7 separate regions of the Homo sapiens genome follow, and regions 2, 3, 4, 5, 6 and 7 are each linked to region 1. Evidence: fine-mapped expression QTL. A gene starts in region 1. Each other region holds a variant in brackets. All regions are shown on one strand. Distances are between the middles of the regions.

Region 1 (4,155 bases):
AACATGAATGGAACTGGAAGACATTCTGTTAAGTGAAATAAACCAGGCAGGGAAAGACAAATATCGCATGTTCTCACTTATATGTGGGAGCTAAAAAATTTGATGTCATTGAGGTAGTAAGTAGAATGGTGATTACCAGAGGCTGGGATGGATGGGTGGTGGGAATGAAGAGAGGCTGTTAATGAGTACAAAAATACAGTTAGATAGAAGGAATATCATAGGGTTTGAGAGCTATATAGAGACAAAAAAATAGGTAAGTGATTGCTAGGAAAGCGGGTGGGATTGAGTACTAATGGTTATGGAGATTCTCTTTTGGGTAATGAAAAAGTCCTAAAGGTAATTGTGATAAAGGTTGTACAACTCTGAAGACAAACTAAAAACCATTGTATTGCACACTTTAAATGAGTGAATCATATGATATATTAATTATATCTCAATAAAGCTGTTTAAAAAAGAATTCTGAGTGGAATTGGCCAGATACAAAAAAGACTAAGATGGCAAATTTTATGATATCTTACTCCAATTTTTTAGAAACATAATTCAGATCACGTTTCCCTAACAACTCTCCAACAGCTTCCCATCTCCCTCAGAATGAAAGCCCCAATTTTCAATATAGCCCATAAAGTCCTACACATTCTGGCCCCTTTCCCTTTCTGGCCTGACCTCTGACCTCCTCTCCGCTCTGCTCCAGCTCACTAGGCCTCTTAAGTTGCTCTCTGAACATAAAGAGGCAGGTTCCCCCAGGGCCTTTGTACTTTCTTCTCCTCCAGAGAACGTCAAGGTAAGTTCTCTCACTTCCTTGAGCTCTGGACTCAAAAATTCCCTTCTCAGCGAGGACGTCCCTGACCACTTATTGTAAAACTGCAGCTCCCTACAGCCCCCCACCCACAACACACACACACACTCTTCATCCCCCTTTCCTTTTTAATCTCTATTTTCACCTTCTGTCATCCTATAATTTTACTTTTTGCCTGTCTCTTTCCACTAAAATGTAAGCTCCAAAAGGAGAGAGATGTTTGTCTGTTTTGTTCATTGTTGGTATCTCTAGTGCCTAGAGCAGTCCTTAATAAACATTTGTTGGATTAATAAAGGGAGACCACTGTGGGGGAAAAAAAATAAAAGAAAATAAAATTTTAGCTGAAGAATGCAAGCCCCTTTAAATTATCAGGCCCAGAGAGGCATTAGAATGAAAAAACAGTCCCGTCTCACTCCCGGTCTGAGCTGGATAATTATCTCTTAAAGCCCACCTGCTATATGGGCTCTAGACTGGAACCAAGAAGCCATAAAATGCCATATGCTGGACACGATAACTCATACCCTATGAGTTACAGTGTACAGCCAATCACTAAGCAATGGTATCTCTGTAAACCAATAACAATTCCTGACCAACTTTGTCTCAGCCCACTCTTCCCCTTCGCCTTTAAAAACCTGCTTGTAACCAAGGCTGAAGGAGCACTCCCCAAGGCAACTGGGAAATGAGTCCTGGGCAGCTGTCCTCATTTTGGCTGAAGTAAACACTTTAAATTATAATTTTGTGCCCCAGCCTCTTCCTTTTAGGTAGACACCACTATTCAATGACATCAAGATCTGAACTGTCCTACTTATCCCAATATCCCACCCCTAAAAAGAAATGTACCGAACCATAAAAAGCCTGAAGTACTCCGACTTACAGACTCCTGTATTAGCATCCTAAGAATTATATTACCCTCTTCAATAGGGAGTAGTATTTTTCATATCAAACCTAGCCTGAGAACAACTGAGATTCAACTAGGAAAAAAAGAAAAGAAAATCCATTAAAGACTGAGTGATTTGAACTCAAAAATATCCATCATCACTTGCTAAATCATAGACAGCAGGTTATTTCCCTCGACTTTGCTGTGCAGACCTGTAGTGGCTCAATTTCTGCCATAATAAAGGCCGTACTAGAAAGAGCAATCCTAACTAAGCGCGCAAGGTAAACATCAAGCTGGGGCCGTCAGGGGCGGGGAAACACTTTCTGAATGGCGGAAGCTCCGAGAGACGCCTTTCCCAGCTGCTCCAGAGGGGAAAGGAAAAGGGAGAAAGTCTGTTTTTCCAGAATCTCCCAAACACAGCCCAGGGGCCTGCTCCGCGGGCCTAAGCGCCTCCACGTGTCTCAGAAGCCTAGCACTATAGATACCCCGGGGCACGGAGCTGGGAAAACGGGAATAGGAAGACACTTTACCCCGAGAAGATCCAGTCCAACAGGTCTTCTTCAGCCGGATGACTGTGGAGCGCCACCACAAGCAGGGCCTGCAACCCAGGCATCCAGGCTAGACACCAAATCAGCAAACTTTATTCCCGCGCTGCCGAGTACAAGCCGGCGCCTCCCCGGCGCACACAGTACACATCAGCTCCGGGAGACCTACCCGACCCGCCCCTCCAGCGCCGTCCCCGCCCCCGTTCCTGCCCCACCCCTTTCCCCGCCCCCGGCCCGGCTCGCCTTTCTCGCGGCGCTGCAACCCTCCCACCACAGCCCATCCAGCCCCGCCCAGCGCGCCGCGGTGCGCATGCGTGGAGGCCCTCGCTGCCGCTGAGCACCTCGGGAAGTGTAGTCTCTTCGCAGGTGCGGCTGGGCAGCTAGAGTCCTGCATCCCGGTGGAATCCGGAGAAGTGAGAACATTCCCGCCGCCCGGTCCTCATTCCCATCTTCCCACCTGTCCAGTCCCCTCGCACTCCCGCTGCACCCCACGCGCCGGGCTTCAGTCAGAGAGTGCACTGAGGAAGAGCGGAGACCCCCTCTTCCCCTCAGCAGGCTGTGCCGGGGGAGGCGGGGTCCACCGCCCGCCCCCCGCCGTCGCTCTCCCCGCCTCCCCTTCCCTCCCCTCCTGGCGGGTGCGGGGCCGGTGTCCGAAGTCAGGCGGCGGCCCCCGCAGCGGCCGCAGGAGGGGCGGCTGCGGTGGGCGCCGCGGGCGATGCCCCTGCCCGGCTGCTCCGGCGGGGGGCAGTGCGAGCGGCGGCGGCGGGGGAGGAGGCGGGGGGCGGCGGCTGCGGCGGCTGCAGCAGAGGGGCCGAGAGCTGGCGGTGGCGGCGGCGGTGGTCGTGAAGGGCATCGGCGGCGGCGGTGATGGCAGAGATGATGTGAGTGCCCGCCGGCTGGAGACCTGGGGCCGCGGAGCGCGGGACGGGCGGCGGCGGCGTGCGGGAGCGGCCCCGGGGGCGGCGGAGGGATGCGGGGAGCGCGGGCAGAGCCGGAGCGGCGGCCGCCAACCGGCCGGCAGTGGCTGGAGCCCCGCGCTGCGGCGCCGGGGGAGCCGGGCCCGGCGTGGGGGTCGCGGGCGGCGGCGGGGCGGTCAGGCCGAGGGGCGTCTGCGATTGTTCTCAACACCCCTCCCCCACCCCATCCCGTGTGTCTGTTTGTTACTTGCAGCTGAAGATGGAAAGAGCCAGGCGAAGGGGAGGCGGCGGCGGCCGCGGCCGCGGAGGCAAGAATGTAGGGGGCTCTGGCCTAAGCAAGAGTAGACTCTATCCCCAGGCCCAGCACTCCCACTACCCCCACTACGCGGCCTCAGCCACCCCTAATCAGGCCGGGGGCGCAGCCGAAATCCAGGAGCTGGCCTCCAAACGAGTGGACATCCAGAAAAAGAGGTTTTACCTAGACGTGAAGCAAAGCTCCCGGGGCCGCTTCCTAAAGATAGCCGAAGTCTGGATAGGGAGAGGCCGGCAGGACAACATCAGAAAGAGTAAACTGACCCTCTCCCTGTCTGTGGCAGCGGAGCTGAAGGACTGTCTAGGGGACTTCATCGAGCACTATGCCCACCTGGGCCTGAAAGGCCACCGGCAAGAGCATGGCCACAGCAAAGAGCAAGGCTCCAGAAGGAGGCAGAAGCACTCGGCACCCTCCCCACCAGTCTCGGTGGGGTCCGAAGAGCATCCTCACAGTGTCCTGAAAACAGACTATATCGAGAGGGACAATAGGAAATATTACCTAGACCTAAAGGAAAATCAGCGGGGTCGCTTCCTACGGATTAGACAAACCATGATGCGGGGGACTGGCATGATAGGTTATTTTGGCCACAGTTTGGGCCAAGAACAGACTATTGTCCTCCCAGCACAAGGAATGATTGAGTTTCGTGATGCCTTGGTTCAGCTGATTGAAGACTATGGCGAAGGAGACATAGAAGAACGAAGAGGTGG
Region 2 (4,000 bases), 100 kb before region 1:
TGCCAATATCTTGGGAAGCCAAGGTGGGCGGATCACTTGAGGTCAGGGGTTCAAGACCAGCCTGGGAAACATAGGGAGACCCTGTCTCTACAAAAAAGTTAGCTGGGCATGGTGGCATGCACCTGTAGTGCCACATACTCAGGAAGCCAAGGAAGTAGGATCGCTTGAACTGGAAACTTTGAGGCTGCTGTGACCTATGATCATGCCACTGTACTCCAGAGCCTGGGTGACATATCACATTCTTTCCCTTTATAAACCAGGTGGAAAAATAAGGGTCACCAAAACTGACATATCATGGAATGTGGAAATCTAACTGATCGGCTAAGTGTTAGAATAAAGAGAACTGACTGGCCAGGGTACATGACCCAACGTATCAGTTTCCGGTAAAAGCAAAGTCTTTACAACGGTATCTGACAGAGAAAAAAAGAAAAAAGAAAAAGAAGAGAGAAGAGAAGAGAAGAGAGAAGAAAAGACTTGCCACTTCTCCATATTAACTTCTTTAAAAGTCACAGTTGCTTTTTGTACTGTGAATGCCATTCTTCTCCACCATTCTTCCCTCATTCCTTCTCTGAGTGAATGTCCAAATCCACAGTATCACACCAAAATCTACTATATATTCCACAAAAATAGGAAGTTCTAGTGATACCTTCACAAAGACTCCTCTAATTTCTCTAAACACTCTCTCTCTTCAGAACTTCAACAGCATTTATATGTATTCATACGTCCCTTATCTAATTCTCTGCTACATTACACTCATTTCTTCTTAAGTAACATCTTCCATAATAGATGATGCGTCTCATCTAATTTAGCTTTGAATCCCCCCACAAAATGTAATACAGTGCCTTATACAAAAATACATGTTTAATAACTAGTGGAAAAAATAGCCATAAACTCCAACTCAAGAAATTTTAAACTCAGCCTGGCACAGTGACTCTCGGTGCTTTGGGAGGCCAAGGGTGGTGGGTATCACCTGAGAGCCCTGGAGTTTGAGACAGGCAGGGCAACATGGGGAGACCCCATACCTACAAAAAAATTAAAAAATAAAAAAAATAGCTGGGTGGGGTGGCACCTGTGGTCCCAGCTACTCTGGAGGCTGAGGTGGGAGGATTGCTTGAACCCAGGAGTTCAAGGCTGCATCAAGCTATGATCACACCACTGCATTCCAGCCTGGGCAACTCCTAAGTTCTGAAACTACAAAAAGCCCACAGCTATTGTTAAAAACACTTTAACTTTTTTTGGTGGGGGGGCTTGGGGGAGGACGGGGGTGCTTTTTCCCAGTCCCTACAGGCCAAAGAAGCTCACAGCTGCAACTTTAGAGCTTCAGAAAGTCATTGTGAACTATAATTCTATGTGCAAAATAAAACCAAAAGATGAAGTAGTGATAATTATCTCTAGGAATATATTTCATTCAGATGAAACAGTTTGTCTAGAAAACAGGATGGATAATCCTCTCCCGTTAGATAGTTTGAAAATTACAAGAGTGATTAAAACTACCAATAGTTTCAACAAATGTCTATAGTCAAATCATGTATTATCAAAACTACCGTCTAATTCTAGTGCCACGACAAGATTTGGCATTCTGCTAACGTGATCAGAAGAGAAGTTTCACTTAATCTGTCAGTTATGTAAATTAATGAGTGTGTTTTTATTTTCTAATCTATAAAATTAAGGTCATTGCATATCTTATCACATATTTATACAGAATGTTTAAAGATTTTTATACAGTAAGTTGTTCAGACAGCTAAAACGAAGTTCCTTAAGTAATAACTTCACTGTTTAATTTCTAATCAAATTTGCAGCTTCAAAACAAAATTTTAAACTCTATTCACAAACTCCTAGATAGGCTACATAACTGTTTATACTATTCAGAAAAATCTTGTGTAAGACAGAATTATATGCTGCTACTATGTTA[T/C]ATATTTATATACATTATCTCTTTAACTAAACTCCAATTATTCCCAGTTTAAAATGTTTATTTTACAGCTCAAAATCATGTACAAAGATATTAATTTTTCCTAAGTTGGTTAAAGGGAACATTTCACTAAATTCTCAAAGGAATTATAACGATAATTTTAAAAACAATATCCCAGGATACCAAGATCACTGAAATGGGGAGAAAAAAAAACAATGCCTTATTTTCATTGCATTTAGTGTCTACAGATTTTCATTAAGTGGTACTTTTAGAAAAGTTTTATCTAGCAAGGGTAGTGTAATATTTCACAAAGGATAGACTTCTTAATTTGAGGACTCCCAGAAGAGACTGTCAGTGTAAGTGGTCTGATTTGGTTTTTTAATAGGTGAAATCTGATCTCTCTTGTGGCCAGTTCAAGTTTGTCAAGGAGCCTACTTAGACTTATTTGTTGATACTGGATATGGCTGGATTACACCAAATTAAAACAAGAATAATTTTTATAAATTATACATTCAACTGAGATACACAGGTTCTGAAGGTGATAGAGACAGAATACATTTTCACAGATCTCAATTATATTTAAGCTGTCCCTTACAACTAAAATTCTTGTTATAAAAAATACAGTTTCACTCACAGCACCTAAAATAGTCCTTAGGCAACACTTCTACTATTAAATTTCTAATCCAACTTGTGATTTACAAACAAAATTTTAAACTCCATTTAGAATCTAAAAACATCAGTACATGAAAAATCAACAGAAGTTTTCAATATATTTCATTAAAAATATTTCACAACTAATTTAATAAATATGTTTCTTTTTTTTTTTTTATTGAGACAGAATCTTGCTCTGTCGCGCAGGCTGGAGTGCAGTGGCACAATCTCAGCTCACTGCAAGCTCCGCCTCCCACGTTCACGCCATTCTCCTGCCTCAGCCTCCAAAATGTTCCTTTCTAAAAATACAAACTCAGAAAGTATTTACATGAAGCATTCGAGTATTTCACAAATAAATGCTTACCTATTCTACATTCAATACGAGAATTTTAATCTCTATTTTAAAGTACATTTTTAATAAATATGCATATTTGCAAAGTATCCTATCTCTTGCTCTTGATTTATTCAGCCATTATCAGTGTGTAATACTTAGCTTTGCTTTATAGACTTCTAAATCAGGGGAAAAAATCATATAAAGGAAAGGACTACAGAACAAGCTCTTGGACTGCAACGGTCCTATCTTATTCACATTTGTACCCGTGGTTGTTTAGAAGAATACTGGAACATCAATCACTCCAAAAAAAAGTAACTGAATTTAATTGATTATTTATTCATTAGTAAAGGCAAAAACCACAATTTTCTTATAACTTTAAATACTTCTGATAGGAAACAGAAGGAAAAATAAATATGTCCCAAATATTGTTACTGAAATTAGACATTTAAAAAATAATCCCTATAACTAAAGTTTTCCTTGAAGAATTTAATGGTTTCCTGGACAAAAGGACAATTTTGTTCTACCTGTCCCTTGATACAATGAAAGTTAACTTTTCCTAATTATCCTAAGCAAGACTAGTCTAGGGATTCACCCAAATGCAATGTGATAAATTAACACAATGCTTCCAGACTGAGCTGCAGAGCTGAACATCGGCTTGAACATGAAAACAGCAGAAGATGCCATACACACGGGTTTTATCCAAAGTAATGAATGTAGTGTTTAACTGGAACTTAGTAAGACTCTATGAGTTCCTAGTCACCCATCTGAAGTCAAAGCTACAATCATAATACTGCAAACCTCTGAAGAAAAGTGTAATAGAAGTAAAAGAAGATCTATGAAGGGAATTCACAGATATATACTTACAGATCCTCGGAGAAATAAAATTGGAAGCCCAATTCCAAATTTTTCGCCTAAGATGTCCACAGCAGACAAAAGCTTAAATGCTTGTGGACCAAAGTCCCAGGATGTATCCTCTGAGTCATCCATGGAATAGCAATGATCCAATCTAAATAAAAATAATAACATTTGAAGAAAGCTTAGCAAAGGCATGTATCTTTAGAAATCAAAAGATTTAGCATAACAATTAGCCAAGTAAAAAATATCTC
Region 3 (4,139 bases), 140 kb before region 1:
CAAGCCATGAAAAAAAGCAGCAAATTCAATTGGCAACTCAAATAATCAAACAAGTGCTTCTCCTGGAGACAGCCTCGTACCTAGGCATGCAGCAGACGTGTCTGTGCGTACTTGCCACTCCATCACACAGGATATTCACAGGGTATTGCAGATGCACACACAAAAGCATGCAAATGCAGAAGCCATGGCTGGACAACAACATATCACATATTTAATAGGCGCCACTACCTTCTGGTAATGCAATGCAGAAAAATGGGAATATACGAGACTTTTATATTTTAACTAAAAACAAATGAATATAAAAAAGTCTGGTGGGATACACAAAAGAGGTTGACTGTGATTAGCTACTAGTAAAACTATGAATGATTTTTATTTTCATTTTTCTCACTTCCCTGGATTTTCTAGTTCTTCTATGACAGATATATTTGTTTCTTAACAAGTTATTTTTATTTACAAAAAAGCCAATCAAAGGCTTTGAAATGGATGGTGAACTGCTTAAAGTTAAATAATCATCGTTTACCCAACTCTGTGTCACAGTATAGGTTTTAAATTAAGTCACATGTGCTACATAAGAGAGATTAGAATCAAATTCTGACATCCTGGAAAAATAAAGGTACTTAAAATAATTAAGTAAATGAAAGCTAAAAAATATATATATAATATTCAGTATGAAAAACATTGTTTTATTACTTGAAAAATAATAGAAATTGTATATAAAATACAAAATATACACTTGCCTAGTGCAATTGGTCTCCATTTTACATTTTTTACATGTTTTTTCCCTATTTAATGGCACCCAAAATGCGGTTTCATTTTCACTGCCCTGGTCAACTAATACCATTTAACAACGTATTTAAGAACTTCTTCAAAAGACAGTAAAAACAATTTGTAAAATAACTATGCTTTCTTACATTTACAAAACAGAATTTTGATAATATATGAATATTTTATATCACATAATTACCATGTAACTACTAATCTGTTATCTATATCAAATCAGAGCACATAACATTTTCCAAATACACTGTTTTAATAAAGAGATTAGAAAACAGGACAGTAACAGTTTCTTAAAGCAATCTTACAGGAAGTCTAATTTAATATTCTGTTAGGTGATGTACTCACGTAGGCTCCCAGAAGACCCAGAAACTACATGAATTGCGGAAGGCTGATTTAAGATGCCAGTTCTTCAATAAACAGTGAACTTTGTAATTAGAATGATTTTTAAGCCAAAATACTACTCCTTACTCTTCAGAAATAAAATATAGCTATCCTCTTATAATACAGCAAGAAACATAATTGTTCTGGTAATTGCCAGCTTAACTAAAAAGACCTCCCCTTTTCGTTTTGTCCATTAATTTCTTGCTGGTATCACTTCCTTTGGCAAACCACACAGGTAATCGTCTCTTTCTCTCTGCAGATGAAGTCTGTAGGAAATAGAAAGAAAAAGAAATCAAATCTTTGTACTACTGAGAAGGGGTATTAGTTGCAAAAAAGTAACATAAGTTCCTGAATACACACCCATCCTTTCTCCCCCATCCAAACAAAATAGTGGTATCTATATAATTTATTTCTGGATCAAAAAGTAAATAAATATAAGACACACAAAATCACTACATCATTTCTTCAGGCAATTACTTGCCATCTCATCATGTAGTCTTA[T/G]ACACTCAACACACCTCATTCAGTAAGTAAAAATCTGGACATTATTTCAGATCTGTGTCCCATGGTGTACTTGCTTTGAGTTGACCAAAATGGTGAATTTAATGTTCTGAGGAAGGAACATGCCTGGGCATGTATACATACACAAAGAGTTATATTAGGCATGTGAAAAGAATATAGCTTCTAACATCTACAACGGTAGGTAGACAGACTGGTCCAATCAGCACCCTGTAGAGTGGCCAAGGCATAGTACGCTTAACAAACATTCGCTAAATAAATGAAAAAAATAAAAGTTTCTTGTCTCATAGACTCATCTAAGAATCACTACAGATCCACTTCCCAGAAAAAAAGAGAAACATACACGTGCACAACACTTTCACACACATTTCAGCAGCTCACGTGCCAAAGAGCCTCTAACCCTCAGGTTAAACATCCTTGAAAAAAAAATAATTTAAGGCTGGGTGAGGTGGCTCACGCCTGCAATCCCAACACTTTGGCAGGATCACTGGAGCCCAGGAGGTCAAGGCTGTAGTGAGCTATAATCACGCCACTGCACTCCAGCCTGAGCAGAGTAAGACCCTGTCTCAAAAACACACACACAGGCACACACACACACACACACAAAGGTAGTGTTTGGGTACAATACCATCTGCACATGAAAAAAAATTAAATAATTTAAGTAGCTAAGTGTTTCATAAGCCTAAAGTGTCATACACTTATGTTATCTCAGAGTACTAGATCCTCAGGATAACATGACAGAGAAATCATTCCATCATGAGTACACCCTGGAATCCAGAGTTAATTTGGTTATTATTAATAAAAGTAACTGAGGGATTTTATGAGAAGGTTGGCCTTATCTAAGGTACAAGGTGTCTGTTAGCCTAAAATACAAAAATACCATTTATTCCATTTCAATAATGAAGACTATCTAGATATTGTTCATCAGCTGCTTGCTATGTTTGATTATATTCCCTATGTTTAAAAAAGGCTTTGAAATATTTAACAGTAGGAAAACAGCAAAAGATCCTTGGCAGAAGACTCTGAAACTTTATATTTAAAAAAGGTAAAAACTTAGCTGTTCCAGCTTAAGTACAGAAATCCAGGGTAGAAAAAAGGGCTTTTCACACATCAGCAAAGGCTAAAGAAAAAACTGGCTAAGATTGCAACTTTGTTCCTAGGTACCCAATTGCAAGCAGGGAAGAGAAAATCAAAAGAACGGATGAGACTTATATACACTGTAAGATACTATGACTTAGAAATAATAAATACTGGGGATATAAGGTGGCATACAGAAAAGGCATTTTGCATCTTTCTAATGATCAGTGATGTTGAGCTTTTCTTCATATGTTTGTTGGCTACATAAATGTCTTCTTTTGAGATGTGTCTGATCAAGTCCTTTGCCCACTTTTTAATGTTTTTTTTTTTTTCTTGTAAATTTGTTTAGGTTCCTTGTAGATTCTGGATATTGGGCCTTTGTCAGATGCATAGATTGCAAAAATTTTCTCCCACTCTGCCAAAAGAGGAGTACATCTGAACAGCAATAGAGCAGAGGAAGAAACCCTAAGTCATGTTGTAGCCTAATACCATGGAGTAGCACAGACTTTGAAACCAGGCAGAACCAGGTTTGAACTTTAATTGAGCCACTTGCTAAATGTATGACCTTATTATGCGTGTTACTTAAGCTTCAACGTCTTCACAGAGAAATGGAAATAATAGTACATAACATCACTGAATTCTTTGGAGTTAAATAAGAATAAATGTAAAATAGCAAAACACATCCTGATTTCTTCTTCAAACTCATTAATTGGTAGCGAATATCATTTCAAGTCTTATCTTCTATATTTCTATAAATATGATCATCAGCATTTATAATGGAATTATAATAATGATCTTATTTCATTGGGAAAAGCGGGGAAATGCTTACTTACACTAAGTGTGTCTTTTGAGTGTCAACAATAAGTATTTGAAGTCTTCAGTATGATATCTAAGTTACCTAATAGAAACAACGCCTTCCAGTGTCTATTTCCTTCATCAGTAGAACACTAAAATTCCCAGCAACAAAATTTTAAGGGGCTCTTTACATCTTTTTAATACTCCCAACTCTGTTACCAAGCTATTACCATTAAGTTACGAATAGGAAACATCAACTCATTTGCTGATTATATGTGTACATACGGATGTAAGCAAATACAGAAATATGTAAGTTACATTCACATTTAATTTCATTTATAAACAAGATCAATCCATATATTTAGTTACCGAGCCTGATACATTTGTCATGAAAACTATTTTCATAAGTCAATTTTACCTGTGAATGAGCATCTGTAAATAAATCTTCTACAAAACAATTTGTATAAAATATTGTGTATTTTAATTTATAATCAAACTCAGCGGTCAAGCAGGAAATGTCATACATTCTCTCTTATACAGTCAAGAAAAATAAGAAGAAAAAAATGACATAGGAGGAGAGGGTACTGGGAAGA
Region 4 (4,000 bases), 41 kb before region 1:
CCCAGAAAAGCATACATTAACTGCACTTTTTCGAGTCAGAATTCTTTCTATTCCAAGTAAGAGAATCACATTTCTACAAAGTATTTTTTGGCCCAAAATTACATTACCACATTCTAATTGTTCATTGTTCCAGAGCATTCCTGCTTTTAGAGATTTAATAAGGAAGTCATCCTGCAATTAAGGCCAGGACAAGGTCTGATTCCAAAAAGACATAGCCCCTGTATTCCAAGGTCTATTAATCTGTATAACATTTGATCCAAATTTTTTAAGTTACCTAGTGCTTTAACCATAAAAGAATCTCTAAAATTGGAATGCCTTTTGTTCTAATAATCTATTAATTAAGTAGAATTCTTAAGTAATAATCAGATAGTAACAGAAATGAGGCTACTAAATATGACATTGCTTTTGGTCACTATAGATTTCAAGTGACCAAACTATAAATGTTATTAAATCAAAGATACTCATTAACAGAAAGAAAATGACAACTTTGAATCTTAAATATTTTCCTTAATGTATAATTTATTTTGCTTTGACAAAAAATATAATATAGATATAATTTCAAAATGTATAATATGAATACAATTTCTATTCCTTTGTTTCATAAAACATCCTACAAAGCAGACAGAAAAGGCTTAAACCTTTGGATTCACTATTCAACAACTGGAAAGATATTTCTCAAATTTATGCATCAGTCTGTGTGTGTGTATTCAAGCAAATTTCTATGAGTCAGCCTTAATGAATAGTATTCTTCACATATAGGAAAATGTGATAAAAAAATAAACAGAATTGATTTAAGTTAAAAAAAAAAAAGGTAATATTTAACCTCCGTGGGTTTTCCAATTTACTGAAAGCATGAGGAAGATGCTTAGCCAGATCCATCACTTCCTCAGAGATTGAAGTCAACTGTTTGTTCATGTCGCTAAGTAGGATTTCTTCCTCTAGGGGGAAAAAAAATCAATATTAATTTTCAAACCACAAAGCAGAGATATTCATTTAGCCACTTCATTAAATAATATTAGGGATCAAATTTTCATTTTCTTTCCTTAAATGAATTCCAACAAAAAGACCTTCTTATTCAATCCCCAAATTGCCTCAATCACTTTCCCTCTCTTTCAAATTTTTACTGTTTACATTTAAAGTAAATTCCAAATGATCTGCAGTCATCTGTACTATAACCCAGCAGTTATTCACCTAGGCAGAAGGAGAAGGTGGAAATGAGAATCTGAACCTGTCTGTACTATTGCAAAATCAGAAGTCAGTATAACACCATGTATGCTGCTACTTAATAATACTGTTTAGTAAGCACAGCCTTCTCCAACAGTCATCCCTCATTGCCTTCATTCCCAGTCAGCACCAAAATAAAATGTAAGCCCTTCCTTTTTTTTTTTTTTGAGACAGAGTCTCACTCTGTCACCCAGGCTGGAATGCAGTGGCGCAATCTCGGCTCACTGCAACCTCCACCTCCCGGCTTCAAGCTATTCTCATTCCCTAGCCCCCGGAGTAGCTGGGACTACAGGCATGTGCCACCACGACCAGCTAATTTTTTTTTTTTTTGTATTTCTAGTAGAGACAGTGTTTCGCAATGGTGGCCAGGCTGGTCTCCAACTTCTGGCCTAAGGGATCCGCCCACCTTGGCCTCCCAAAGTGCTGGGATTACAGGCATGAGCTGCCACCCCCGGCCAAAATAAAATGTAAGCCTTTCTAATCAGTGATCAACTTCCAAATTCTCAACTTCATCCTGTCTGGTACATCATTTGCCATCAACAGCACAAAGCCTGCCCTGCTTTCCCAAACACTTCCCCTGCTTAGAATTTATTCATCATCATTTCTCTTGTCCTTCAAAAGCCCATCTCCTCTGAGGCCTATGAGACAGAGCTACAAAACCTGCTATTCCTGATTACTACAGTTATCTTGTCATCTCCAAACTGCATCCTTTCATCCCTTGGAGATCTTAGTGCCTGATTCATTAACTACTTTCACTCCACTACTATTCCTTGATCA[C/G]TGCCAGTGAGTTCAACATCCACAGGCCAGTTCCTTGACCCCTGCATTTCCGACAATCTTTTCTTCAACAGACCTTAGCCACTCAATTCCATAGTCATACCGTTGACCTTATAATTGCCAATAAAATCACCACTTCCAGACTACAACTGTAAGCCTTCCACCCTGAGAACACCAGCATCCCTATCTTTCCTTCCAGCATGCTTTCCCCAACAATACTTTGACACTTGCAGAACCAAATGCATTGATCCTATCACCTTTTCCTTACCTATCAACATCCCTACTCCCACTGCCCACTGAGCCTTCCATTCCTCTCTTACCCACATTACAGTAATCATTCCTTTGTATCTATACTCTCAACTCCTTTGCTCTTCCCTCCCTCCATGGTAATTACGTGGCAAAACCTCTACTCATAATAAAACCCACTTTTTTTACCTACCTGATGCCTACACCCAAGCAGTTGAATATAGTTGAAAATAAACACATCGATGATGACACAAGTTATTTTAAACTCATGACAGATTTCAAACGCACCCTCAGCAATGACTGTTAATTCTTCTACATTTCCCACTCTCAAAATGACTATTTCAAACCTCTTCCTTTCTTTGTGAACTTCTAACACCTGTTTGACCCTCCTATTACTCAGAGAACTTCACCTCTTATTTCACTAAGAAAAATGAAATAATAAGAGAATTACGTCTTCCCACTTTTCAGTTTGCTAATTATTCAGTCTTCAGATCTCTACTCCCATTTATAGCGAAATTCCTTGAAAGAGTTGTCTACACTCACTCTCTCAAATTTTCTGCTCCCATTTCCTCCCAAACCAACTGCAACTAAGCTTTTACCCAAATCAGTAGAGCAAAGCTGCTTTTGAAAAGGTTACTCTTGGGCCGGGCGCGGTGGCTCACACCTGTAATCCCAGCACTTTGGGAGGCCGAGGCGGGTGGATCACGAGGTCAGGAGATCGAGACCAACCTGGCTAACATGGTGAAACCCCGTCTCTACTAAAAATACAAAAAAAAAAAAAAATTAGCCGGGCATGGTGGCGGGCACCCGTAGTCCCAGCTACTCCGGAGGCTGAGGCAGGAGAATAGTGTGAACCTGGGAGGCGGAGCTTGCAGTGAGCAGAGATCGCGCCACTGCACTCCAGCCTGGGTGACTGAGCAAGACTCTGTCTCAAAAAAAAAAAAGAAAGAAAAGGTTACTGATGGCCTCCACACCATCAAACCTAACTGTTAGTTCTAGACTCTCATCTCACTCAACCTCCCCGAATGATTTAAAGCAACTGACAACTTCTTCCTATTCCAAACATTTTCTTCAGGTGGCTTCAGAACTAAACACCTCCTGTACTTCCCTCCTTCATTAGTGGCCCTCCCAGTCCTCTTTGCTGCTCTCTCCTCATCTTCCCAACCTCTAAATGCTGGTGTGCCCTTGAGGTCAATATCACACCTACTCTTTATTTCATTCACTCCCTATTTTATCTCATTCAGTCTCACTGCTTTAACTACCATCGGATCTGAATTACATCTCCAACCTCAACCTTGAACTTTGGGATCATATTTCCCAAATTGATCCCAAATATTGATATCTCTTGGATATCAATAATCATCTAAAACTTAGGATATCCAACACTGAAATCTAAAGTTTTCTCACCCAAACCTGTTCTTCTCATAATCTGTCCACTATAACTGACCTTTCCATTGATCAGATGATCTGACCAAAATATCTTAATGTTCTATGAATCTTTACATCTCACCCCTTACAGGGAATTCATCAGCAAATCCTTCACAATATATATCTTCCAAATACCTACAGAAGCTACGACTTCTCATCACCTCTATTGCTACCCGCCTAATCCAAACAATTATTGTCTATTGCTTGGGCTGTTACAATAGCCTCCTAACTCTCTGCCAAAATGCCCTGGGGCTAAATATTTTTCCTCTTACGACAACCAGAAAAATATTTCTAAAATAAAATTTTAATTATATCATTCTTCTGCTCC
Region 5 (4,000 bases), 89 kb before region 1:
ACTCCAACTTCCTTTTGATTAATGTTTTCATGGAATGTAATGTTTCATTCTTTTTTAAACCTATCTATATAATTACAGTGGATTTCTTGTGGACAACGTACAGAACAGGGTCATGTTTTTAAACCAATTCTTACAATTTACGCCTTTAAATAATATTTTAGATCATTTACATTTAACATAACTATTGATATGTTTAGATTTAGGGCTACCATTTTATTGCTTTATCTATTTTTTAAGCAAAATACTTTAATATTGTTTGCTTTCTCATATCTAAACACATTCATTGTTTTGTTTAAAAAACTGAAATACTTATCATTCAACAAAAATTCAGTTAAACATGAAAAGGAAGAGAAAGAAAGACTTTTAGAATGTCCATCTATAATAAGAAATCTTTACCTGGACCTGCAATTATCACAGCATTTTTCAGTTCCCATAATTCCCAAGGAGGCTTTTTGTACTTGTTTGTCCTCAAAATGAGACAAGATGATTCTACCCAAGACAAAATTTTAAATTAAATAAAAGAACAGAAACGTATATGTTAAGTTCATTCCTGAAAATAATGAGGTAAAATCACCATTAATTGATTCACTTGGGACTTCATTATTTGACTTCAGTTTACTCAGACACAAAGAAGTTAGCCTTAAAAATTCAGCACACATGTAACAGCAACAAAATATTTTTTCAAAATACTGATAATTATTTAGCCAAATTGTTGTCTTAAAAGAGCATCATCCATAAATCCATACTATTGGCATAAAATAAATAATACATACTGTCTCCTACATCTGCTAGAATGAAGATATTTTTCCATCTTTGCCATCATCTTTAATTTGTATAATCGAAACTTCTCATTACGTATCTCAGTAAGAAGGTGCCTGTCGATTAAAAACATCACAGGAATATGTAAAACTGTATTGGCAACTTTCTTACTTTTTTTTTTACTTATTTTTTACTGTTTATTTTTCATTATCTACAAAACCCACACCCCATCAAGATAAAAAAACATTTCTAGCATCTCAGAAAGTTCTGTTGTATTCCTTTCCAGTCAATGCCCCCAACAAGAGGTAAACATTTTTCTGATTTTATAAAAATTGCTTTTGAAAAAAAATTCTTCCTGTGTCCAAGTATCAATTCTTTAGCTGCTTTGAAAAAGTATCAAAAACTCTAAGGTTTTTCATTTCAATTTACATGTCACACACTTTTTGGCTTCAAACAATGCTTCTACAATTTATTAATTTTTACCTTTTCCCAGTAAAAAGGTTATTCTTTATTTTATTTTGTATGAGAAACTAAAAGCATTGACGTAAGGAACACTGAAAGAAGCTCAAATTTGAACCTTTATCTCTATCAGCTCTTCAGGACTTCTCGCCCTCCAAAACTGTCTCTTAGTATTATGGGTTATTATGGGACACCAGTCAAGTATTAGAATTAAGTTCCTTTCTCAATCGATTATAACTGATTTGTTTGCCATATCAAATTTATTCAAAATTGTTAAATAACATTAAGGAGGTGTTTGTTTTTTAAAGTCAATGCAGCCATAATTCATCATGACTCTGTTAATTTCTAGTCTTCTGTGAAGAAAGCCCATGAATATCAAATATCAGATGATGACAATCTCCCAAATAGCTTTGCATATCTTTACAAGAACAAATGAAAGTCCATGTTAACTAGGTTTCAGATATTTCAAAAGAAAACAACGATTTACTTATAATATCTAAGGGACAGCATTAGTAAAATCCTCATCAAAATAGACTTCACTCACTAATAATTTGACTATTCAACCTTCTGACTGATTAAATACCTCTGCATAATTCTCAAGGAGTTCTGGAAAGTCTGAAGACACAAATGATCCGTTATTCAAAAACATTCTTGTCATCTGAAACGACCACCCACCATGCCCTTCCATGTAATTATCCCCAAAGTCTCTTCCAACTGTTGACTCTAGCTCCTAGGTTAACCATATACAGTTCCTCCTTATCCACAAGGGATACATTCCAAGACGTCCAGTGGATGCCTGAAGCCGCAGAATAGTACCAACCAAATCCTGTATGTATTATGTTTTTTCCTATATGT[A/G]TATACCTATGAAAAAGTTTAATTTATAAATTAGGCACAGTACTCTTGTGCTTTGGGGTCATTCTTAAGTAAAATAAGCGTTACTTGAACACAAGCACTGTGATACTGCAACAAGTGACTAACAGACAGGGAGTAAATACAACGTGAATGCACCGGACAAAGGGATGATTCTAAGGGAAGTCGAGGCAGACTGAGTGGGATGGCACAAAATTTCATTACAGTACTCAAAGCCACCACTGATTTAAAATTTATAAATTGTTTATTTCTGGAATTTTCTATTTAACATTTTGGACGTGGTTGTGAGTAACTAAAACATAGAAAGTGAAAATGCAGACAAGGGGGTCCACTGTAATCTCATTCTTTCTACCTCAAGGGATAAAAATCAGTTCTTTTTTGCTTTATTTTGTTTGTTTAGTTCACCTCGTTCCCCTCCTATAGAAAAAAAAAAAAAAAAAAAAAAAAACAAGAAAAGAAATGCCCACACTCTTCAGAACTGGGTCCTTCCTTCCTTGTATTTGGTTCAGATGACCTACATTTAACTAATCTCGTCAGTGTCAGGACAAATTTGAGAAAACAAAACTACAACTCTTAACGGCAAATAAATAAATATTTATTTTTCTTTTGGGACTACAAAAATAAGTCCAGTATTCCACAGAATAAAAACAACTTGAAAATTAAAAAAATTCTAAACCATTCATGGCAATCATTTGGATCCACTGAAAGATCTACCGGACCGAGATTACTCTGCAAATTATTCTCTGTTAAAAAAAGATTACAATAACTTTGGGGTTTGACTATTTAAGGTAACAGCAAATGCAGACATTGGGACTTTGCCTGTGGTATGAATTCTGCAATTAAAAACATAAATTTACATGAAGATTACATGATGACTGGACAAGTTTCTTCTCTCAGTGATAGAATTATGGCATAAGATAGACTCTAAAAATTTTGTGAGTAACTGACCTTTCCAGGTGAGAACCAGCAACTTCATTTATTCTTAGACTTTCTAGTTTTTTCTAGAAGAGGGTTGTCACCAGGATGATACAGATCCCTCCTGAATCCTTGCTCAATTCTTTTTTATCCTGATTAATCCTATAGTTTTAGTTTCCTCAGGATTGATGCAAAGGGTAACCTGTCTATACCCAAAATTCAAGTATGGGTTTCTGGCACCACTATTTGATTTGAATCACTGTTATTTCCTGTTAAATCTTAATGAGATAACCATTTAAAATATCTTTTAAGACCCAGAGAAACAAGAATTGTATTTATTGATGAACCTTCAAATGCACAATATAAAACTGGATATTAATGTCCTCAGTACCTTTAACAAAATACACAAATAAAATCAGAACTGGTAGGAATCAACTTATGTTTGATATATTCCATATTTAATAGTAACATGTACAGCTGTGTTCTATCCCAATTATTTAAATTAGATCATAAGAAGCTTGACAGATACAACTGTCTAAAGGAAAACAAGAATTGTTATGTACAAAAAAAGGATGGTTTTGTCATCTTCTATGTTAAGAAGGAAAAGCTACTGACTACTCAGAAGGAAAATCTTAAAATTTGCATCAAACATTTTTACCTAATTAATTCCTATTCTTCTTTCAGATTTGAACTATCACTTCCACAAGGAAGCCTTATCTGACCTTTTTAACTTGGGAAATACCACACACCATTATATATTCTTACTACTCAGTGCAATTTCCCTTCATTACACTTAACACAGTTATAATTTTAAATATGTTGCATGATTCCTTTTTTACAAAATTTTGATTGTTGACATTTTCAAACACAAAAGGAGAACAGTAAAATGAAGCCTATGTATCCATAGTTATGTGATTCTCTAAAGAATTACCATTCCCATTATACTGAATTCTATGGAAGCAGGTACTTTGCTTTTCTTTACTACTATATCTCCCAC
Region 6 (4,000 bases), 82 kb before region 1:
CTCTTCCTCGGACTTATAGTTACAGTGTGGATTTCATGTTGACAGTGTCAAGTTGTTGACTTAAACCTACTCATGTGCCTTGAACTTAAATCCTCCCAAATAAATCCTCTATGACACCCACTGAGCCAGTCCAATCAGGTCAGGAATCTCAACTGTAGAATTTCACAATAGCTGCATCGATACCCTTTCCCTTCTTCAGTTTCTCTTCTTCAAATCAATCCAACTTATTGCTGCCAGTCTAATGTTTCTATAATCCTATTATCTTATTTAAAAACACAGAGTAGTACATCAAGATGGTTTTCAAATGATTCTGCGGCACTCCAAGGATTATAAGACCCCAACAGGGAGTGTCTTCAAGGTCTAGAGACGAGACTCTTGTACCTCCTTTTCCCTCACATTAACTTCAGCCAGAGTTATTCTACTTTAATCCGTTTTACCTATTACAGAAAATTGTATCTAAACTAAAAATTCTAAGGCTAAAGTAGTCAGTGAAAACTAACAGGTATATGATACCAAGCCCAGACTGCTTCTTTGCAAGTTTTAAAGCCATCTATAACCTGGCCAACCGACCCATTCAACTGTTCTCTCAAGTCTCTAACGGTTCCACCCTGCCTCTTTGTCCATACTTTGTGCCATTCCTACCCCACATTGTCTTTCCCTCCAACCATTCCATACCAGTCACATTTCCTGAACCCAGTATGTGTTCTCATATCAAAGTGTCTTTGCACCTGCTAGTCCTTCTTCCTGGAATTCTATAACCAATTCCTTTCCCCTCATCACCTACTGGCCTGGCATACTTGAAAAACTTCTACTTACATGTTTGGACTCTAATTGAATTTTCCTGGATGGACCACCCCCATTACACAACTACCTTGACAGAGCTATTCCTCCCTCCTCTGTGCACCTAAGCACTAGGTACAGATTGCTATTTATACTAATCTGCAAGTTTGTTCTCCCACATTTATCAGAGGGACTGCTTTATGTTCAACACAAAGAAAGTATTCAATAAAGATCTGGTAAATAAACATTTGAGAAATATCCACTTCCACTATGAGCAACGGAGAGCAATGATGATTGATCCTCATACCTGAATTTCATCTCTTACAAACCTATGATGAATGTCTTTCCTTGTGCTAAAACTCATGCCCGCATGGTATGTTCCACAGGATAGATTCAGTTTCCTAAGTTCACCTGTAACTTGTTGTGTCATTTTTCTAGAAGGACAGTAGATGATTGTTGGACCTTCAAATTCCCAGTGGGAACTAAAGAAAAAGAAGAACAAAAGAGCAAACATATATACTTTATACATGCTTCAGACCCGTTTGGTTTTATCTTATTTAATTCTTCCTTTCTACCTTCTAAAGAAAAGACTAAAGGAAGAAAGCCTATCAAAAATAATGATATATTTAAGTGCATGAAAATTTAAAACATTATGGAGAATCAAATATCCAAATGAATTGTGTGAAGTCCCCAAAACTCAGTTTTGACTGTTTCAGTTCAAATTAAAGCTAAAACCAGAAACAAATTTATTTGTTTTAGCTGAAACCTTGATAAAAACTTATAAACGACAGATACAAATACTTTGGGGAATGCAAGGCACCAGATTAACAATTAGTCTGGTGAGGGTTTACAAAGGAGTGTGCATAAAACTTGTTACACTGTTCTTATTCTTGCTTATGATAATAAAGCTGAGTTTCTAAATGTTTACTAAAGCAAGAGCTTTCTTATAATATTGAAAG[AT/T]TGCTTTTACAGTTCAAAGAAGTATTTACTAGTAATCTTGAGACTGAATGTTATAGAAAACATCTGTTAGAATGTATTTTGTAGAAACTTGTGCTTCTTTATTAAAAGCGTAAACGATTTCCATAGAAGTATAAACAACTTAAATGTTCAATTTCCACAGAATATTTTACTTAACGCCTAAAAATATTCATTTACATAAGTGCATTCATTTATGCTGACAATATAAAAAAGACTATACTATTTTAGATTTAGGAAAAGTTAATCAATTTCAAGTGCATATAACTTTTGATCCAATTTCAATTTTAGGATTCTAATTTACAAAAATATTTGCTTATTGGCCAAAAGATAAATGTAAACAAATATTCACTGCAACATTATAATAGTAAAAAGTCATCTAAATGTTCATCATTATCTACACTCATACTAAGAAATATTAAGCAAACATTTAAAAATTAAACATTAAAAAAATTATAAAACCTTTAAGGACTGTGGCAAAAGCCACTGAAAACTTAAGCAGAGGAAACAAGGCAATAATTTCACTACAAGAGTCATACTGAATAATCTGTTCAAATCTATTTTTGACAGCAACCAAATGGGCTTCAATATCAAAAATTCACAGTGAACTACTTAATGGAGTGAAAAATGTAAGTTTTCTTTTAGTGTATAAAAATCTTATTTTAAGGCCAGCACAGTGGCTCACGCCTGTAATCCCAGCACTTTGGGATGCCAAGGCGGGCGGATTACCTGAGCTCAGAAGTTCGAGACCAGCCTGGCCAACAAGGTGAAACCCCGTCTCTACTAAAAATACAAAAATTAGCAGGGCATGGTGGCATGCACCTGTAATCCCAGCTACCCAGGAGGCTGAGGCAGGAGAATCGCTGGAACCCAGGAGGCAGAGGCTGCAACGAGCCAAGATCCCGCCACTGCATTACAGCCTGGGCGACAGAGCAAGACTCCATGTCAAAAAAAAAAAAAAAAAAACCTTATTTTAAAAACATGTTTTCAAAGAAGAAAAAACTACTCAACAAAACCTAGATATTGTAATATCCTATATATTAAGGCTCTAATTTAAGAAAATGCAATATATGGAAAGATAGCAGATACTTTAAATGAAAAAAAATTTGCATAAATAATGGATATAGTATGCAACTATTTCTGTATCAACTTAACAACAACAAAAAACTGCAACTATATATCTGCACAGTAGTAGGGTCAGAGAAAGGAAGTCTACATAAATGCCAAAATACCAACAGTGATCACAACTGAGGTACGGAATTAGAAAATTGGAGTCCTTTTCAATTTATATGCAACAGTGTTGCTCAAATTGATATTGACTACATATCACTCTTTTTTAAAAAAGGTGGAAAATATGTAAAAATTTGAACTTATGTAACAGATAAATCAAAAGAGTAAAAATTCCTATTACAAAAGGAGCCATTATTTTGCCAAGTGATTTGCTACAGACTTTTATTTCCTCTTAATTTTCTGAGGGGAGAAAATTCTAATCTAATCTAACCACTAAATTATATGAGAGACTCATCTATCTCACTTAAATGTACTATGAATATATTATAATTAAGACTTTAACAAAATAGGGTTAGTTTAAGAAACACCTTAGCTCAATGGATAAAAATACTTGAATACTGATAAACAAATTAAAGGAATTTAGCAGAATTAAAGGAAGGGAAGAAGATGGAAATAACGGGCAATGCTCTGAAGCCTTAATTACCCTCTACCTCACTGCTCATGAAGAGGAAAGTTTCTGTTCACCTAAGATCTGTAGAAAGCATTCTGACTCTCAATGGTTTCCTGCTATCCTAAGTCTTCTTGGAGGATTAAAAATGGGTACAAAAATCTTTCTTGATCTCCTTAAAAAAAAAAATTCATATTAAATACCTAGATCTTCAATACTGTTGAATGTTACACTGAGTCTGGTCTTTATTTCCTAGTAAGGAGTTCCAGAAAGGTATTCCAGACTTAAGGATGTGTTTGCAGACAATAATTTGTAAACTGCATAGAAAGCAACAAGGGGCACTGGGGAGAGGGGTATCTGTTGGGGAAATTATAATAGTCTCGGCTAAAAAGTAACAAAGACCTCAATTAGCAGAGTCAACATGAAAAACAGAAAGAAACATTTGCATAGGATTATAAGAGGACCAGGACGTCAGAAAACCAGGAGAACAATATTACACACAAAAAAGGCAAACTGCTTTAAAAAGGAGAGTGTTATTATAAGGGAAAGTGCCATAGAGAGTGTTAT
Region 7 (4,155 bases), 54 kb after region 1:
ACAACCATGAAACCCTCACCACAATCAAAAGAATAAGCACATCCTCAGGATCTAGGAGAATTTGAAAAATAATAATAATAAAAAATATATTGATGACCCAAAAAAGTTTCCTTCCCTGGCCAGGCGCAGTGGCTCAAGCCTGTAATCCCAGCACTTTGGGAGGCCGAGGCGGGCAGGTCATGAGGTCAAGAGATCGAGACCATCCTGGCCAACCAACATGGTGAAGCCCCATCCCAGCTACTGGGGAGGCTGAGGCAGGAGAATCGCTTGAACCTGGGAGGCGGAAGTTGCAGTAAGCCGAGATCACGCCACTGCACTCCAACCCCAGCAAAAGAGCGAGACTCCGTCTCAAAAAAAAAAAAAAAAAAACTTTCCTTCCCTCTCTGACACCCATTCTGAGCCTATCACCAGGCAACCACTGACCTACTTTATATCAACATAGGTAACTTTGCATTTTCTAGAGTTTTAAATTGACTCATATAATATGTACTATTTTTTAATCTGGTTTCTTTTACTCAGCATATTTATTTTGAGATTCAGCCATATTGTTGTATGTATCAATAGTTCATTTATTTATATTATCCCATGGATATGGATATGCTGAATTTATATGGATGCTGAATGTGTTCATTTATTCATTTATTGATGAACATTTGGCTTAATTCAGTCTCTGGCTATTAAAAATAAAGCTCCTATAAAAAGTTGTATTCAAGTACTGTTATGTACATTTGCTTTCACTTCTCTTTGGTAAACACCTAGGAATAGAATGACTGGATCACATGGTAAGTATATGTTTAACTTTTTAAGAAACTCTCAAACTATTTTCCAAAGTGCTTGTTCCACTTTACATTCCCACCAGCAATCCTTCAACATCCCCACCAATACTTGGTATGGTCGGCTTTTTAAATTTTCACCATTCAGATAAGATGTTGAGGCATCTCTTGTGGTTTTAACTGACGTTTCCCTAATGACTAGGGATGTTGTGAATCTTTTCATATGCTTATTTACTATCCGTATATCTTCTTTGGCCGAGTGTCAAATCTTTGTCCATTTTTGGTTTGCCCATTTTTTGATCGCCTTGTTTGCATTTTAAGAGTTCTTTAAACAAGTTCTTATATAGGATTTGCAAACATTTTCTCCCACTCTATGGCTTGCCTTTTCATTTTTTTTTAGCAATGGCTTTCAAAGAACATTTGAATTTGATTTCATTTTGACAAAGCTCACCTTATCAATTGTTTCTTTTGTGAACTGTGCTTTTGATTCCATAGCTAAAATCTCTATGCCTAACCCAAGGTCACAAAGATTTTCTCCAATGTTTCCTTCCATAAATTTTATAATTGTATATATCATGTTTAGGTCTATGACACATTGTGTACACAGTTTTAGCACATAGTTTAGGATATAGGTCAAAGTTCATTTTGTTGCAAAAGAATATCAAGTAATTCTAACACAATTTGTTGCAAAGAATGCTCATTTCCATTGATTTACCCTTGCATCTTTGTTGAAAATCTGTTGTCCATATATGCATGGCTCTATTTCTGGACTTTCTATTCTATTCCATTGATATATTTATATATCTAGGTGCCAACACTCCATTGTCCTGATAAATATGTCTTGAAATCGGAAGCATTAGTCTCTCAACTTTCTTATTCTTTATAAC[A/G]TCATTTTGGCTATTCTAGGTCTTTTGCATTTCCAAATGAATTTGAGAGTCAGTTTCCCAGTGTCTAAAATAAAGCCTGATGGAATTTTTGAAGGGATTGCATTCAATCTATATATCAATTTGGGGAGAATTGAGATTTTAACAATATTGAGTCGTGAGTGTTATATACCTCTCCATTTATTTAGCTCTTCTTTTTATCTCATGAGCTGTAGTTTTAAATGTATACATCTTGCACATCTTTTTCCAGGTATGTTCCTAAAATTCACAATTTTTATTTTACTCTCATTCGTGTTGTTTTTATAATTTTTCTTATTGTTCATTTCTATCCTATAAAATATAATTGATATTTGTACATTTTGTATACAATTGATTTATTTTTGTGTCTTGCAAACACATATGTGTGTATGTATGCATGAATTATTGGACTAGACATACTTAATAGTTGGCAGAATACTCTACATTTGTTACTTGGTTTGGGGTAAAATTTAACAAAATGGGAACTAGAAGTGTCCCCCTACCACCTTGGAATGATAGTAAGTTAAAAAACAGTATCATATCCAGGGAGGAATGTCAGAGATTAATTCTATTCTTAGAGACCTAAAGGATGCAGGGATTAGTGGTTCACATCAAACATCCACTTACTTCTTCAATCTAGCTCCTACAAAAAAATTGGATCTTGGAACATGACAGTGGACTGCCTCAAACTCTAGTATAGTGGCCCAAATTGTACCTGCTATGTCAGATGTGGTATCTTTGTTGGAGCAGATTAACACTGCTTCTGGTACATGGTATGTGGCCACTGAACTATCAAATACCTTCTTTTCTGTCTCAGAAAGACAGATTCGAAAATTTATATTCACTTGGGACTGACTATATGTTTACTGTCTTGGCACAGGGCTATGTCAAAATATGGCCCAAAGGGAACTGAATTCTCTGGCCATTCTGCAGAATATCACCTTGGCCCATTGGATTGATGACACTATGTTGGTTGGTCCAGATAAACAAAAAGTGGCAAGTGTGTTGGAAGCTTCAGTAAGACACACATTCCAGACAATAGAGAAAAAAAACGCAGCAAAGTTTCAAGGGCCTACTACATCAGCAAAGCTATTCAGGGTCAATGGTCTAAGGCATGATGGGATATCCCCACAAAATTGAAGGACACATTAATGTATGTCACACTTTCCACCAGTAGCAGGGAACCAAAACACCTAGAAGGGATCTTCAAATTCTGGAGGTATCATATTCTACACTCAGAAATACAGCTCTGGCCTATTTTTTACCAAATAACAAGGAAGCTTCCTGCTTTGAGTAAGGCCCAGAGTAGTAAAGGGTTCTGCAGCAGATCCAGCCTGCAGTACAGATCTATCACTTTGCCATTTGACCCAGCTAATCCCATGCTGTTAGAGAAATCTGCTATAGGCAGATGCCATATGGATTTTATTCCAACATAAGAATCACAATGCAGATCCCTAGGGTTCTGGGCCAAATCATGCCGTTTGTAGCAGGTAATTATAAACCATCTGAAAAGCAGCTGCTGGTATGCTATTAGGTTCTGGTAGAGAGGAAATGCTTGGCTGTGGGACAGGAATTGACCATGTGTCCAGAACTACCCATCACAAACTGGATCTGTCACACCCACAAAGTTATAAGGTCAGGTGCATTCAGCAGCATTCCATTCTAAGATGGAAGTTACACATTCAGGATGGAGCACATGCAAAGGGCAAAAAGAAAAAATAAGCTATACGAGCAGGTGCCCCAGCCCCCATGTCATTCACCACTATTGCACCAGCACCTTTCCCTCAGCTCACACCTGTGACTACATAACAGGGCCCTTGTGCACAGTTCATAGAGAAGGAAAAAGACAGGGCTTGGTTCATGGATGATTCGGCTCAATATATGGGTACAAGTGAAAAATAGAGAAGGGAGATCCTCCCAATGGAGACAGCTTCTGTTGGTGAACCTGGGGTCATCCACTTTGTGCAAAAGAAAAATGGCCCAAGCTAAGACTATGCAGACTCATGGACAGTGGCTAATGGTTTGGTTGTTTGGTCAAGACCTTGAAAGGAGAAGGACTGGAACACTGGGAAAAAGAAAATCTGAGGAAGAGGTTTGTAGACAGAAAGACTGGAGTAGTCAAGACATGTTATCCACCAGAGAACATCAACCAAGGAAGAGGCACTACAAGACCAAGTGGCTAGAACAATTCACACACATGCCTCAGAGACCCAGAACCTTTTCCTCAAGGAGCTTATCTATGACAAATACACACACTTTAGTCCTTTATCTGATTATATTTAGTACCAAACAGTGCATTTTCTTCCAAATTGCAATTCTGATCACAGAAGAACTTCAATACTTTCCCCTCCATATTTAGTATGGTACCATTTACATAAAAAGAGAAAAAATATTACTGCCTGTACTTGTATTTGCTTTAGAACTTGCATTTTAAAAAATATTACTGCATGTACTTGTATTTGCATAATATCTGATATGAT

Alleles and levels. Positions count from the first base shown, and alleles are read on the strand shown. Sizes are in standard deviations (SD) of each study's normalised expression. Not every link is listed here.
In carriers of allele G in region 5, the expression in fibroblasts of the gene that starts at base 2,367 in region 1 tends to be higher than with A alone (moderate effect, 0.41 SD a copy in GTEx).
With allele T in place of AT in region 6, the expression in memory regulatory T cells of the gene that starts at base 2,367 in region 1 is higher (large effect, 0.94 SD a copy in Schmiedel 2018).

The links. PIP is the estimated chance that this variant, and not a neighbour inherited with it, causes the effect. A credible set is the group of variants that fine-mapping cannot tell apart.
Region 2: its variant is the best candidate, but not a certain one, in a credible set for the expression of WRN in whole blood (INTERVAL, PIP 0.72).
Region 3: its variant is the best candidate, but not a certain one, in a credible set for the expression of WRN in esophagus muscle (GTEx, PIP 0.60).
Region 4: its variant is the best candidate, but not a certain one, in a credible set for the expression of WRN in whole blood (TOPMed, PIP 0.60).
Region 5: its variant is the best candidate, but not a certain one, in a credible set for the expression of WRN in fibroblasts (GTEx, PIP 0.52).
Region 6: its variant is the best candidate, but not a certain one, in a credible set for the expression of WRN in memory regulatory T cells (Schmiedel 2018, PIP 0.86).
Region 7: its variant is the best candidate, but not a certain one, in a credible set for the expression of WRN in caudate (GTEx, PIP 0.81).

The regions. Positions count from the first base shown.
Region 1 is chr8:31,032,022-31,036,176 of GRCh38, reverse strand. WRN (WRN RecQ like helicase) reads right to left here and starts at 2,367. Exons shown (of 35, transcript NM_000553.6): 1 at 2,204-2,367. PURG (purine rich element binding protein G) reads left to right here and starts at 2,821. Exons shown (of 2, transcript NM_001323311.2): 1 at 2,821-3,099; 2 at 3,389-4,155. The coding sequence starts at 3,395. RefSeq lists enhancers at 1,210-1,259, 2,093-2,614 and silencers at 1,330-1,399, 2,370-2,629, 2,790-2,839.
Region 2 is chr8:31,132,265-31,136,264 of GRCh38, reverse strand. It overlaps WRN (WRN RecQ like helicase), which reads right to left. Exons shown (of 35, transcript NM_000553.6): 24 at 3,759-3,900. Among named protein-coding and RNA genes, the nearest start is that of WRN, 100 kb to the right of the region's middle. The variant T/C (reference allele first, on the strand shown) is at 1,913.
Region 3 is chr8:31,170,280-31,174,418 of GRCh38, reverse strand. WRN (WRN RecQ like helicase) reads right to left here. Exons shown (of 35, transcript NM_000553.6): 35 at 1-1,424. The coding sequence ends at 1,317. Among named protein-coding and RNA genes, the nearest start is that of WRN, 140 kb to the right of the region's middle. RefSeq lists an enhancer at 1,171-2,370. The variant T/G (reference allele first, on the strand shown) is at 1,660.
Region 4 is chr8:31,073,111-31,077,110 of GRCh38, reverse strand. It overlaps WRN (WRN RecQ like helicase), which reads right to left. Exons shown (of 35, transcript NM_000553.6): 8 at 824-938. Among named protein-coding and RNA genes, the nearest start is that of WRN, 41 kb to the right of the region's middle. The variant C/G (reference allele first, on the strand shown) is at 2,002.
Region 5 is chr8:31,121,397-31,125,396 of GRCh38, reverse strand. WRN (WRN RecQ like helicase) reads right to left here. Exons shown (of 35, transcript NM_000553.6): 22 at 774-875; 23 at 397-489. Among named protein-coding and RNA genes, the nearest start is that of WRN, 90 kb to the right of the region's middle. The variant A/G (reference allele first, on the strand shown) is at 2,074.
Region 6 is chr8:31,113,616-31,117,615 of GRCh38, reverse strand. It overlaps WRN (WRN RecQ like helicase), which reads right to left. Exons shown (of 35, transcript NM_000553.6): 20 at 1,088-1,262. Among named protein-coding and RNA genes, the nearest start is that of WRN, 82 kb to the right of the region's middle. The variant AT/T (reference allele first, on the strand shown) is at 1,740.
Region 7 is chr8:30,977,843-30,981,997 of GRCh38, reverse strand. No RefSeq gene overlaps it. Among named protein-coding and RNA genes, the nearest start is that of PURG, 53 kb to the left of the region's middle. The variant A/G (reference allele first, on the strand shown) is at 1,661.